Linked DNA regions of Homo sapiens: region 1 is linked to region 2. Evidence: fine-mapped expression QTL. A gene starts in region 2. The other region holds a variant in brackets. All regions are shown on one strand. Distances are between the middles of the regions. Region 1 has its middle 6.4 kb from the start of SOS2. Region 2 holds the start of VCPKMT (valosin containing protein lysine methyltransferase).

Region 1 (2,917 bases), 120 kb after region 2:
TGCACTCCAGCCTGGGCAAAAAAGGGAGACCATCTCAAAAAAATAAAAATAAAACAAAAAAATGCAAGTATTAAACACACTGATACTATAAGAGGGAGGGCATATGTATACATAACAAAAAGCTTAATCACAAATTTGTACTGAAATATGCTAACTATCATGCTAATATATTTTTTTTTTTTTTCGGGACAGAGTCCCACTCTGTCACCCAGGCTGGAGTGCAGTGGTGCGATCTTGGCTCACTGCAACCTCTGCCTCCCAGGTTCAAGCAATTCTCCTGCCTCAGCCTCCCGAGTAGCTGGGATTACAGGCACACACCACCAAGACCGGCTAATTTTTTTGTATTTTTAGTAGAGACGGGGTTTAGTCATGTTGGCCAGGCTGGTCTCGAACTCCTGACCTCAGGTGATCCGCCTTCTTCAGCCTCCCAAAGTGCTGGGATTATAGGCGAGAGCCACTGCACCCAGCCAATAATTTGACAGATTGTAATTTTGCTTCCCTTTTTAAATTAATTTTTTTTAAGAGACAGGGTCTCGCTCTGTCACCCAGGCTGGAGTGCGGTAGCGTGATCATACTAGCTCCCTGCAGCCTTGAACTCCTAGGCTCAAGGGGTCCTCCTGCCTCAGCCTCCCAGGTAGCTAGGACTACAGGTATGCACCACCAAGCCCAGCTAATTTATTTTGTAATTTGTATTTTTTTTTTTTTTTAAGAGATGGGGGTCTTGTTCTGTTGCCCAGGCTGGTCTTGAACTCCTGGTCTTAAGCGATCCTCCTGCCTCGGCCTTCCAATGTACTGGGACTGCATGAACCACTGCATGAACCACTGCACCCGTTACAGGCATGAACCACTGCACCTGGCCTTTACCTTTTTTTTAATTTAGAAAGGATTTGGGGAAAATGTGAATGATCCAAGCCCAATTAAAATGTTAAAAGACAGTTAGAAATTTACCACTAATATTCTCCCACTTGAAAACATTTTCAAGAAGGACTTACTCAACATTTCTTCCATTTACTCTCTCATACTTCCTCAATTTATTTAAAGCTACAAGCGCTACCAGTCAATAGCAAAGCAAAGCAACGCCACAGGAAACAATAAATGTTGTTATCACTCACTTTCATGGGTTGCTGCCATAGCCAGCTCGGTCCTCTCACAGCCACCTGCCTGAAAGAAGTTGAAGCAGGCCCTCAGACAGGCCTTTGTCCTCTGACCCTTATGGGAGGCTCATGCCCAACCCCCTGTAAGAGACAGCATACCTAAAAGGTCTTCCCAAGAGGAACTATAATTTTGTATGAAACTCCAAAAGATCGATTTAAAAGTATGCCTCCCCACTCCCCACAAAAAAGGCATTGTATGTTTATATGTTACATACAACGTGCTATTGAGCAAAAAGAGTGTTTTCTGGTTCTCCAAGGTATGAAGATGCCACCGAGGTCATCCAAATATTGCCACCACCACCAGGTGGAAAGTCATCGTACGTGGGGGAAGTAGCTGTTCCAAACACCATCTCCTATAATCAAGGTGAAAGGGCAAAGCATTGCTGGGCGTGGTGGCTCACGCCTGTAATCCCAGCACTTTGGGAGGCCGAGGCGGTCGAATCACAAAGTCAGGAGATCGAGACAATCCTGGCCACGGTGAAACCCTGTCTCTACTGAAAACACAAAAAATTAG[C/T]CTGGCGTGGTGGCAGGTGCCTGTAGTCCCAGCTACTCGGGAGGCTGAGGCAGGAGAATGGTGTGAACCCCGGAGGCGGAGCTTGCAGTGAGCCAAGATCGTGGCACTGCACTCCAGTCTGGGGGAGCAAGACTCCGTCTCAAAAAAAAAAAAAAAAAAAAGCTATCTGAAAGGTTGAGATGGGGATCCCTTGAGCCCAAGAGTTCAAGGCTGCAGGGAGCTATGATTGCACCACTGCATTCCAGCCTGGGTAACAGTGAGACCCTGTCTAATAATAATAATAATAATACATTCGTTCAGAGAATACAGAATCATTGGAAAGCTAATGAAGTAGATTCTGGTTGAGCTTTCAGGAACAAGTCCCAAAGCCACATCACAGAACCAGGCCACTAAGAGAGTAATTTCAAAATAATTATGATCCACAGAGAACTGCCACACCATGAGTCTAGCCATTGCTGCTGCCACATAAAACTAGTGACTGAAAAAAAGCATCATTCAAATTTTTGTTATTTATGTTATCGCAATAGAATCCTTCAAATTCCTGACAGTTAATGAAGTTGAGCTGTCAACAACGAACGTATTCGTAATCTGTTCAGTATAGCTCCCAGTCTATCAGATACACTAGAGTGAGATATAGAAGGCAGAAGTGAGCCCAGGCACGGTGGCTCACGCCTGTAATCCCAGCACTTTGGGAGGCTGAGGTGGATGGATCACCTGAGGTTAGGAGTTCAAGACCAGCCTGGCCAACATGGCGAAACTCTGCCTACTAAAAGTACAAAAATTAGCCGGGCGTGGTGATGGGCGCCTGTAATCCCAGCGACTCAGGAGGCTGAGGCAGGAGAATAGCTTGAACCCAGGAGGTGGAGGTTGCAGTGAGCCGAGATCACACCACTGCAACCCAGCCTGGGTGACAAGAGCGAGACTCCCTCTCAAAAAAAAAAAAAAAAAAAAAAAAGAAGAAGGCAGAAGTGAGTTGGAAGCCGCAACTCTGATATTTCTGTTAGCAAGCACCATTCAGTCACTAGTTTTATGTGGCAGCAGCAATGGCTAGACTCATGGTGTGGCAGTTCTCTGTGGATCATAATTGTTTTGAAATTACTCTCTTAGTGGCCTGGTTCTGTGGTGTGGCTTTGGGACTTGTTCCTGAAAGCTCAACCAGAATCTACTTCATTAGCCTTCCAATGATTCTGTATTCTCTGAATGAATGTATTATTATTATCATTAGACAGGGTCTCACTGTTACCCAGGC
Region 2 (2,917 bases):
TAATCAACGATTTCCCTACAAAAGTTAAATCTGACCCTAACTTGGTTCAATGCTAATTATTTTTAAAATAATCGATGCCCACAACACTATACAAACTGATGTTTTTTTTTTTTTTTTTTTTTTTTGAGACAGAGTTTTGCTCTTGTTGCCCAGGCTGGAATGCAATGGCATGATTTCGGCTCACTGCAACCTCCGCCTCCCAGGTTCAAGCGATTCTCCTGCCTCAGACTCCCAAATAGCTAGGATTACAGACATGCACCACCACGCCTGGCTAATTTTGTATTTTTAGTAGAGACAGGGTTTTGCCATGTAGGTCAGGCTGGTCTCGAACTCCCGACCTCAGGTGAGCCACCTGCCTTGACCTCCCAAGTGTTGGGATTACAGGCGTGAGCCACCGCGCCCGGCCCAAACTGGTATTTAAAGAAAAGAACAATGAATTATTTATAACTTAATTCTCAATGTCATGGTTAACATGTTCCGTGGGAACAACCAAGGGAAAAAGAGAGGATTTTGGCTTTTCATAACATCCAATTGGCAAAATCCTTTAAAATTTTTACAGAAGCCTCTAGTAAAATGCATATAACACTTTTCTCAACATGCTTCACCAGGTCGGTATGATAATGATGAGCGTATATACATATGGTCCCTGGTGACTTTTATCTTCTCTTTACTGCATCAACTATAAGGCAAATCCCGGATTCAAAGATGTTAAAATGTGAAGAAACGTGTGCTTTAGAATTCATGGAATAAGGTTCATCTTCTAAGTGAAGAGACTTCGCTCACTGGATACTTACCTCTTCATAGTATATGCAGTCGGCCATCAGTATGAAGTCGGGTGGAGAAGGAAAGCCTTCTATTTCTTCCCCCCTTAAAAATGCCAAACAAATATTTCAATTGTTTTAATAATTCAAAATACTCTTGTTTTATAAAGAACCGGAAAGTCCCCTTCCATCCTTTTAATGAAACGCAATTCAAAACAAACTACAAATCAATATCTTAAAACAAGCTGAAAGGCCATACAAACCATTTCAGTACCTTGGCTTGAACAGAACCAGTGACAAGATGCTTGTTCATATTAATATTCATCTTCAGCAAGTCTTGCAATTCCTCAAGATCGGTGACTACAACATCAGCCCTATAAAATAACGTCGACTGAGGTGTAGGCACAGGGGGGAAAGCCTGTAATCCGGATTTCCCCAGCAAGAAGGCGCCCCCACATCCCGCCCGCCCGCCAGCTCTTACCCGAGGGTAGCAGCCATGAGCCCCACGGCCCCGGTGCCCGAACCCAGCTCCAGCACCGACCGCCGGCTCAGCGCGTGGGCCCCGTCGCCAGAAAACTCGGGCGTTTCCAGGTATTTAGAAAGGACAATGGCAGCGTCCCACACAACGCAACCCACGCCACCGGAGCTATACTGCTGTAGTCGTAGCACTGTACCATCCCGCTTCTCCAAAACTCGCACAAAGCTCCGCAGTGGGTCCTCCAGCGAGGACTCCAGCGTATCCGCCATTGCGCCCGGCAACAGAAAGCGGCGCGCGCAGGGACGTCACATCAACGCGCACCGCCCCGCCCTGCGGCTCCGCCCCCTGCCCGCCGCTGAGTTGGCGACGCAGCGCGCGCGAGTTAACAAAGCCCGGAAGGCAGCGTTACCTGGGCGGGGCCGAGCGTGGGGCCCCTGCTTACCCGACGCGCTTGGCAGCCTCCCTCTACCCTAAATCACACGTTTGGCTTAACGAAGAGGCCGTTTAAATCACTTTCCCAGACAAAACTATTATAATCTGCTCTTTAAAAAACAAAGCCAACCTCAGAGTTTACCAAGTTGGACACTTGATTTACATAGTAGTTACAAGGCTTAAATGCAATCAGCTTCCAAGATCCTACCAAAGATGGCTATAATCTTACAATCTTCCTTTTCAAGTTCCTAGTATGCTCCTAGTTTTTTGTATGAATTCATAAAAGTGGTTGCTAGAAGCCTGCAGCTCACATTTAACAGTGAAGAAAAAATTGTGTGTGTGTGTGTGTGTGTCTATAGGACTCAACAATCTCCCCCTTTGTTCCTTATAATGAAAACACATATTTTAAAAGTCTTTTAAAAATTAAGACTGGGGTGATTTATTAATCTTGTTAAGAACTCTGATACAAAGCACAGTAAAAGGCCACAAACCAGTAAATAAACAACGTGGCTTTTGGCTACTTTACAACTGCTGCTACAGCACTATCAGCAAAACACTCTATCACTTTGAACGAAGGCATCCAAATGGCAAATAAAAGCTTTACTCACTTATCTGATTAAAATGTTTAATAAAGCTTTAAGTATTTGCTGGTTTAAATATTACCAATCTAAAAAATATATTTAAAAAAAATTTCAGTTAACACGAGATTTATAGAGAAAGTTACTAGGTCTTGAAGGCAAGGCAGTTGGTTCCTATGCCATAGAATTTTTTTTGAATTTATGAATTAGTAAAGTAGCAGATTGTATTATAGGCCTCAAGTCACTTAAATTTATATAGGTTATTAGCAGTATCTTTAAATATACAATATAAACAAAACTGTACATACATGGCATATTAACTGTTTTCCATAACAATAGGCAATTCATTAGCTAAAGACGTCATAGTCTGCAAAAACAAAAGGCACATCTGAATGAGATACATGCCCTTTTTCCCTCCATCATTGGGTTATGTAGTCTTTGTTTACATTTTGACAAAATAATAAACACTTACAGTGCCATTCTATTATTTTCATCCTACTTTTCATTTTTGTCTTCAGCAGCAAATACCGGCATTTAAGACATGGCATTAAAGAGTTTAAGAACAGTTGGTGTTATTCACAATTCTCCTAGATGTAAAAACTAGAAGTAAAAACTAGAAGATGGTCAAAGAGGTTTAAAAATCAGTAACACCATATACCCCTCCCATA

Evidence for each region. PIP is the estimated chance that this variant, and not a neighbour inherited with it, causes the effect.
Region 1: its variant is fine-mapped to the expression of VCPKMT in whole blood (TOPMed, PIP above 0.99).

The regions. Positions count from the first base shown.
Region 1 is chr14:50,236,565-50,239,481 of GRCh38, forward strand. No RefSeq gene overlaps it. Among named protein-coding and RNA genes, the nearest start is that of SOS2, 6.4 kb to the left of the region's middle. RefSeq lists silencers at 994-1,194, 1,000-1,139. The variant C/T (reference allele first, on the strand shown) is at 1,669.
Region 2 is chr14:50,115,045-50,117,961 of GRCh38, forward strand. It overlaps VCPKMT (valosin containing protein lysine methyltransferase), which reads right to left and starts at 1,528. Exons shown (of 6, transcript NM_024558.3): 1 at 1,243-1,528; 2 at 1,025-1,135; 3 at 795-867. The coding sequence starts at 1,508. It overlaps SOS2 (SOS Ras/Rho guanine nucleotide exchange factor 2), which reads right to left. Exons shown (of 23, transcript NM_006939.4): 23 at 2,086-2,917. RefSeq lists an enhancer at 1,465-1,524.